2 separate regions of the Homo sapiens genome follow, and region 1 is linked to region 2. The links come from fine-mapping of genetic effects on gene expression. A gene starts in region 2. The other region holds a variant in brackets. All regions are shown on one strand. Distances are between the middles of the regions. Region 1 overlaps TAMM41 (TAM41 mitochondrial translocator assembly and maintenance homolog). Region 2 holds the start of TAMM41 (TAM41 mitochondrial translocator assembly and maintenance homolog).

Region 1 (4,518 bases), 38 kb before region 2:
CTTATATGCTTATATTCTGAGTTTCCCAACAGAAAGGGCAATGAATTCCCGGTAAAACAGATAAAACAGATAAAAACAGACTCACATCAAAGCACATCACTGAGAGAATTCAGAGCACTGGGGAAAAATAAAGACCTAACATGCTTCCAGAAATAACATACACAAAGGATTAAGAATCAGATTGGCTTTAGACATAGACAACAATCCTAGAAGTAAAAGATAAATGCAGCAATGATCTCAAAATTTTAAAGGAAAGTGATTTCTAATCAATACCCAGCCTAAGTATTAACTATGGGTGAAGACAGACAAAAAAGACTTTCAGACATACGTGGTCTCCAAATGTGCCTTCCATGTTCCCCTTCTCAGGAAATTACTGGAAAATGTGCTTCACCAAAATGAGAGTGTGCACCAAGCAAGTGAAAGACATGAGATACAGTAAATGGGGGACCCCCTAGAGGGGACAGCGAAGACACTCTCCATGAGAGAAGAACATTATGCAGGGAAGGAAAGGTGTACTCTGTGGCTCACCATACCATCAAACTGAAAACTAATTAGCCAAAACCACCAGACAACTATATTAGGAGGACAGAGGGATGGGAGGGTGCGTACATTTGATGAGGGTGGGTGCCAGAGTTGACTTCTAACCTCCCATAGAGAGAAGTCAATAGATGATACCTAAAGTTGAAACGTAGAGAAGGAGCAACGAAAACTTACCATTTAGAGAAATGGCAGTAACAACAAAAATAACCCACTAAGACAGATGGAAGCAGTTGTCTCAGAGAAGGGGAAGAGGAGGGGGAGCACAGATGCTGCTGTTTTTGCAATCCTATGCATCTGTAACTTTGATAAATAAAACAATATGAGGGAAAAACCCTGCACACAGGAAGTGTCTCAGAAAATTCAGAAGGGCAGTAAAGCTTCCAACAGCACTGCCAATGGTCTGACATTGTTCGACCACCAGGTTCTGCTGCTGTTATGCCTGTTTGTACCTTACTGCAATATCCCAGTTTATGGCCATCAAAGCTCAGCATTTCACAAGCACCTAAAAGATACAAAGCTTTACACTGTAACCAAGAGTGTGGAAGCCACTCAGTCAGCAGGTATGTTACACACGGATTTCCAAAGCTCTTACCAGCAGTAAAAATGCCTTTCGTGCTCTGTCTTATACTAGACGGTCTCACGATTGCTGAAAGCCCTGCGAGAAAAAAACCAAAAAGGAGACCAAAAAAACCCAAAACAGATGTTAGTCATCTTAACAGTTTTAAAACTTGAAACTAAATATTCTTTCTAGTCAGCCAATCAAACCACCAAATCTATCTCTGTCCTGCTGTCACAGTGACAATGAAAAGGGCAGTGGGATTGAGGGCCAGGAGACCAGAGCAGCCAGCCGTGGCGCCACCCGGCTGTGTGAGTCCAAGCCGATGACCGAACAGCTCTGTGCCTCTTCCCCTTAAAACAAGGGGATGGGTTAGCTGACCCTCAAAGGGCATTTTATGACTTAAATCTGCTTGAGATTTCTGGTTCTCAATTCCATAACATGAAAAGATAAAAACCAAATGATTACATCTACGAGAAAAACTTTCATTCTGAAAACACACATACGGATTCCACAGTGAGGAACAAGTTTCACTCACCTCAAAGAGACGGCCCAGATCACACTGTTGCCAGGATCATGTTCAAACAAACAACAGTGTGCCTCGTACAGAGCTATCTTCAGGATGGGGAGCTGGTGACCTAAACACACACTCTGCAAACCTAGTGCAGGCCCAGGAGGAGAGTGGGCGTGGAGCGCCTGCTGCAGCTCATCCACTGCAGTGCGATGGTCTTTGCAAAGCATTACTGGAAATTCTATCTGGCACGCGGAGGAGCTCAGTAAATATTTACTGAATGAAAACAGGAGAATGCACTCAATTGACAGAGGGACTCATTCTCAATTTCATAAATATTTCTTGATTGACTGATCTCATAAATTACCTTTAGCACCTTAAAGGGAAGTTAGTCTCTGAAGATAAGGTTCAGGCTCTTTTTTTTGTTTGTTTTTTAAGAGATACGGGCTGCTCTATCACCAAGCCTGGAGTGTAGTGGTGCGATCCTAGCTCATTGCAGCCTCCAACTGCTCAAGCGATCCTCCCACCTCAGACTCCCAAGTTAGCTGAGATTATAGGCATGTGCCACCATGCCCAGCTACTTTT[G/T]TAATTTTTGCAGAGACAGGGTCTTGCTCTGTTGCCCAAGCTGGTCTCAAACTCCTGGCCTCAAGTGATTCTCCCTCCTGGACTTCCTAAAGTGTTGGGAGTACAGGCGTGAGCCACTGCACCTGGCCTGGGTTCAGAGTTTTGGATAAACATCAGGGCAGTGCTGGGGAAAATGCTGTGGAACGTGGGCCATGTCTGAGGGAATGTACTCAACAATGTATGAGACACATCAAATGGAGTTGATTGAGGAAAGCTGTGTTCTCGATGTTATAAAAGCACAAAAAAATGCCACCAATCTCTTTTCTCAGACCACCACAAAACACAGACACATCTTTTAAATAAATTCTAGAAGTTGTGCTCTAGGAACCAAAAGAAACATTGTTTCTCCCTTTGACAGTGATTTAGGATCCAGGAATTTAAAAACAGAAGTATTTTCACCATCTTACTTCAAACAAATAAAAATGCAGATTTAGAAAACCCTCAAATTTTTAGTGCTTTCTTCTTCTGAGAGGCAATCTCTCTATCTCGCTAAACAAAAAGGAAGAAATAATACATTCCAATCACAAACAAAGTCTGCTTTTCCCCATGGCTGGCATTTCCTCAACATCAAATTCATAAACGTACCTAGTCGCACCACATCTCCACAGTCGGGATCATGAGCCACTTGGAATAAAGTTTCTTCCACATCTCTGTTTTTTCCAGGAGGGTCCATAATATGATTTATCTGTTGCTGTAAGGTTTTGGGCAATGTCATCAGCTGAGTGAACTGTCCTTCTGGGCTTTTATCTATCTGAAGGGAGGAAAAAAAAGACGACGTCTATGGAAGTGCTTTAAATCCTACAAATACTCCAAAACTCAGGGCTTCTCTTTAAAAATCACACAAACATATATGCACCCACACCCCTGGCGAGGCAGCAAGCTAAGGAAACTCTCTTTTTCTGAAACTGAATGGGTAAGTGTTCAGGAGTCTAAGTCCCTTCAAAAAGGACAATTCTTGTCCTATAATATTCCATTTCTACCTGAGAAAAGAATAGAAGCCACTCTCAAGGATCAATTTCTGACTTTTGGTTTTAAAATTTATATTTGTCTTAAATCCAGCAGTCAAAGGAAGTGGTGCTGCAGTTGACACTCGTGGAGGCCGCGTCAAATCCAGGCACTGAGATGACCCCTCCCATTTCAAACACAGGGAGACTGGCGTGCCCTGATCACATCACCAATGAGAGTAAGTGGGATCTGAATTGTGTCTCCTGCCTGTAGGGCCTTTTAGTATGCTGTATTTCACAAACTGTAGGAATACACTGATGACAGAAACTAATCTTACTTACTTTTAATCCCCAGCACACAGTAGGTACTCAAAAAACAATAAGGAAATGAGTAACTGAATCAATACAACTTAGTTGTCCTAAAGCTACTATGCCAGCGGCTTCGGTTCCCAAAGTATTCTAAAACATACTAAGGTGCTGAAGATAAATATATAAATAAAACATGTAAAACTATGTGTCAGACTTTACTCAGAAACCCTTGAATCAAAAGTTAGCCACAGAGCTGAGGCCAGACCTAGCTTTCCTAACTCCAAGTTTCATACACTGTGCCTCGTGGAATGAATTTTTAAAAATCTTGTAAACATTGATTTCCTGCCAAGTGCAGAACCAGTAACACTGCCCTCAACAGCCCATCACATTATTTCCCAAGGAAGAATCTGTCTTGTATCCTTTTAACAAATATTTAGGTTTTAACTTCAACTAAGAGAAGAGTAAGAAAAAATCAGATCAATGTATTACATTTTAGGCTTAGAGTTTACAGATAGGACGAACTTTCTTAATAATTAGAATCCACTCATTCTACCATTTTTTAAATTGAATAAATATTTATTAAGTACATACCAAATGGGCCAGGAGCACAGGTTCACACCTGTAATCCCAACAGTTTGGGAGGCTGAGGCAGGAGAATTGCTTGAGCACAAAAATTCAACATCAGCCCTAGCAAAAGAGTGAGATATCCGGCTCTACGAAAAAAAAAAAGAAAACAAAAAAAAGCCAGACATGGTGGTGCAAGCCTACAGTTCTGTCTACTTGGGAGGCTGAGGTGGGAGGATCACTTGAGCCTGGGAAGTTGAGGCTACGATGAGTGGTGATTGTGCCACTGCACTACAGCCTGGGTGACAAGACCAAGATGGTATCAAAAAAAACAAAAAAGTATATACCAAATACCTGAATTTTCTAGTTTTGTCTATAAACTCTATGAAGAGAAGGAGAAAAATGTTATTATTTAATGGCTCCATAAAGCTAGAGGGGTAAATATTTAGGTTTTTATCTAAATATTTGAT
Region 2 (4,238 bases):
CACCACCTGGATAAACTCTACAAAATACTATATAAAAGGAAGTCAGTTATTTTATCTCTTACCTATTCACCAACCACTTATTGAGTACATAAGTAATGAACTCTGACAGGCCCTAGGGTAGAAGTATAGAGCTCAGAGTCTACTGGAGAGAATAAACAAATTATCACTACATTGACTTGATAGAGGAATGCAAAATGTACTAACTGCACTCAGCATAGGGATCAGATCAGGGGCACAGGAGGGAGAAATTCTCCTAGAGATGACAAATCTGAGTCTTGAAGGACACGTGAGTTAAACAGACTTGCTGGAAGCACTGGGGGAAGCACAGGGAAGGGTAGGGAGCCGTGTTGGAGGAAAGTGCTCTGTGGATATGGGAGCCAGCATGTTCTGGAAGCTGCCGTCAGATATGACTGAAATAGAACACATTTATGCGGTGGGAGATGAGATCAGAGAGGGAGGCTGTTTGCCATGCTAGAAAATTTTCCTGCAGAAGAGCTGACTGGAGAGAAGAGGGACTAAGGGGGTGGGGGAATTAGATCTGAAGCCATGGCAAGATTCCAGGGGAGAAATGAAATTATATTAGCTAAGGCGCTAAGGATGGGGACTGATGTGAGAAAGATGTAGGTGTTGGAATCTACAACTTGTTCACTTGAATGTAAGGAATCAAAAGTGAGGGAATGGGAAGGAAGGACCTTTTCTTGCAGGGAATTCCAGGTCTATTCAAAGGAAAACCTCCATGGAAGAATGAAGAGGTGGCCATCAGGAGGCTAACGCCTGCTCTGTAGAGTGTGACTCTACAGACCACTGGGGACACTTGAGATTTGGTGGCGAGGCAGGTATGGAATAAACATGTTTTTTAAAAATGTGTAATTATGTTAAGGTAAATTCGGGAAAAATAACTAGCCTATAATAACCTATAATTTCTCATATGCTGCCAATTTAAAGAAAAATATTAAATAGTAGTGTAAGTGGGAAACAGAGGAAATCCAAGCAACAGCATAGATGGCCTCACCAGGAAGTGAACAGGCAGGATGTTAATCAGAAGACAGACTACAGTCAGGTATCCAGACGCAGGGGGCCCCATTAAAACCTGCACACTGAATTCTGCAAATTACAAGGAAAACTGTACCCTTACTGAGGCTGTGCTGAGCCAACTCTGAAAAGTAACAATGCCTAGTCTCAAACAGACCGTTGTTAAAAGTGCTGAGCGAGGGTAAATACACTGGTCACGCACTAACTTTTGATGTTAGTTACTTTCACTGCACCTGCCCTGGCCCTACAACCAGTCCGCCAACTTCCTGAAGTCAGAAGATCATTTTGCATTTTCTCCTACATTTATAGAGGTGACTCTCAACAAACTTGGCTGCGCATTAGAATCACCTGGGACGTTTCTTAAATTCCTGAAGCCCAGGCCTCATCCCAAACCAATTAAATCAGAATCTCCATCGGCGGAAGCCGAGCATTAGGATTTTCTTAAAAGCTCCCCAGAAAATTCCGATGTCCAGCCGACTAAAACACTGAAAGAACCTGATAACGATTTCTTTTCCTTTCTTCCATTTGCCCCTGCAGCAGTTTTTCCTTCTGCCTAACTGCTTCTCCTGCTCTAGACCCACGTGGATTCCTAAGTATCCTTCAACACCGTCGCTTCAACTCGCGCTGTCGTTATACTAGGAAGGCAGGCCTATGGTTCACTCTGCTAGTGGACACGTGGAGTGTGCAGAGCGGACAGGCAGCTCTCCGACTCTGAAGGAATCGAGGGCAAAACGGGACTCGTGAGAACAGACAGTTCCCCGTCGTGGGGCTGCCCGGGCTCACCTTCTGGTCTGAACTCGGCCCTGCCTGGCGGTACACCCCGGAGCCGTAGACGAAAGCCAGACTCAGCTCCTCGGGGAAGTGAGACAGGATCTTGCGGAAGGTCACCCACGAGCTCTGCAGCGTCTGCAGCGCCATGGGGTCGAGGCTAACAGGGGACACTCAGCGCAGCAGGGCGAGGACAACCGGGCGGGGAACAGACACCGGGTAGGCGGTTTAGGGTGGGAAATGGAAGTCGGAGACTGGATCGAGGGACACAAGGCTGAGTGTGGGGTGGGACTGCAAGCACACGCAAGGATTGGGGCGTTGGGCCACGAAGAGCAGCGGCGAGAAGACGCAGCCCAGATAGGCTCGGGTGGGCGGCGGTCGCACAGGCAGAGCTTCCGTCCCTTGCTACGCCCCACGCACGCACAGGCGCTTCCAAGACGCAAGAGGCGGTGCTCGCCTTAGTGTGGGGAACGCGAGGCTTTGCATTGTCCCCTCGTGGTCGGAGGAGTGCCCTACAGGCTGGCGGCTAGGTTGCGACTTGGACAAATCGGCGGAGGCGAGCGTCACCCGACTCCGCGGGCCCTGAGCCTTGATAGCCTCTGTACTTCTCTCTTCAAACTACGGTTTAAAGAATGACTATAAAATCGGGAGCGTATTGAAGGTTTTTAAGTGAGGCGACACTCACATAATATGGAACTAGCCGTTCTGAAATGGACAGTGTAGTAGCATGTAGTGCCTTCACAATATTGTGCCCCCATCATCGCTCTAGTTCCAAAATTGCAGATTTCGAAGATTTGGAAAAACACAAAATTAAAATGATGCCCAATCCCGCCATGTAGAGAATACCACCGTCAAGATTTGACGGAGACTTCTTCACGCTAAAGCCCTTTTCAAATACAAGGGTGGATATGGGAGTGCACAGACGTTCTCTGATACTTGCATTTAATTTCAAGGGTGGATCACAGTTTTTGCCCCCTTGCCTTGTGGAATGGTCTCACAAAGGGTGCTTCAAATGCAGTTTCTGGAGGAAACAGGACCCTAGGAGTAGAAAAATCTTACAGCTCTCCTCTTTGTATAACTGGAGAAACTTGCTGAAGATTACCATTCAGGAGGTGGTTTGACTTCCAGGACAGAAACTTTTTCAACTACCCTCTCCTTCCTCCCCAAAATACACTACCTCTCAAAAATAATAGAAATAGTAATAGCTAACATTCAGGTAATGTTGACACATTTTCACATGCACTTCTCACTGAGCACCCTCTAGTGCCCTGTGGCAGGAGGGCCTTGGTTTTACTGATGGCCAAGCTAAGGCTTAGAGAGGTAAAGCCAGGTGATAGGATCACATCAGCCTGTGGCAAAACTAGAGCTAAACCCAGGTCTGGCTCCAACTCTGGGATTTTTTCGGAAATTCTGCTCTGTCCTTGAAGGGTTTTGAGCAAGGACTTATGTAATTCACATGTTAGCCTGAATTGTGGGGGACTGATTAGACAGTTGTTATCATAGTTCCCCCATGAACTGGAAACGGCTAGGCCAAGGTCTTAGGAGCAGGGATGGGATTAAATCAATTGGAAAAATGATTACTTGCACTCACACTCTGGGCCTGCACTGAGATGAAGAGATCTGAGCTGCCTGCTGCCCTGCAGGAGCTAGGGGTCTGTAGAGGAGAGGAGACAGAACTGCAAATCAGAGTAGAATTTGGGTAATGCAGCCAGGTACCCAGCACAGTGCCGGAATGTAATGTCCCTCCAATGGGAACGTCAGTCAGTTCTGGGTGTTGGGGAAAGGGACCAGAAGAGGTTTCACAATGATGGCATTTTGAGCCAGGCCTGGAAGCTGGGTAGGAGTTTATCAGGTAGAAGATAGATGGGAAAATTCAACCAAGAAAGAATTGAAAGGACTCGGTGACAATAATACTAATAATAGGTGTCATTATTAAGCACTTAGTATGCCCAGGCACTTTTTAGACTTCTTTGGGGCTTTTCTGTTTTTGTTTTTTTTTTGAGACCGAGTCTTGCTCTGTTGCCCAGGCTGGAGTGCAGTGGCACGATCTCAGCTCACTGTGACCTCTGCCTCCTGGGTTCAAGCAAGCATGCCTGGCTAATTGTTGTATTTTTAGTAGAGATGGGGTTTCACTGTGTTGGCCAGGCTGGTCTCGAAATCCTGACCTCTAGTGATTTGCCCACCTCAGCCTCCCAAAGTGCTGGAATTACAGGCGTGAGCCACTGCACCCAGGCTTTTTATACTTGTTTCTTTTCATCACTCCAGAGATCCTATGAGGCAGGTTCTCTAAGATGATGATATTTTTCATACGAGGAAACAGAGGTCCTAAGAGGAGCAGTAAATGTTCCAAAGTCACACAGGAAAGTGGTGAAGTCGGGGTTTGAACCTAGGGCTACCTACCTCTAAAGGCCAAGGTCTTTACCACCATGTTTAAGTGT

What was found.
Region 1: its variant is fine-mapped to the expression of TAMM41 in lung (TOPMed, PIP above 0.99). The same link has a PIP of 0.9 or more in whole blood.

The regions. Positions count from the first base shown.
Region 1 is chr3:11,806,701-11,811,218 of GRCh38, forward strand. It overlaps TAMM41 (TAM41 mitochondrial translocator assembly and maintenance homolog), which reads right to left. Exons shown (of 8, transcript NM_001284401.2): 6 at 2,817-2,982; 7 at 1,133-1,195. Among named protein-coding and RNA genes, the nearest start is that of TAMM41, 38 kb to the right of the region's middle. The variant G/T (reference allele first, on the strand shown) is at 2,193.
Region 2 is chr3:11,844,687-11,848,924 of GRCh38, forward strand. It overlaps TAMM41 (TAM41 mitochondrial translocator assembly and maintenance homolog), which reads right to left and starts at 2,199. Exons shown (of 8, transcript NM_001284401.2): 1 at 1,816-2,199. The coding sequence starts at 1,950.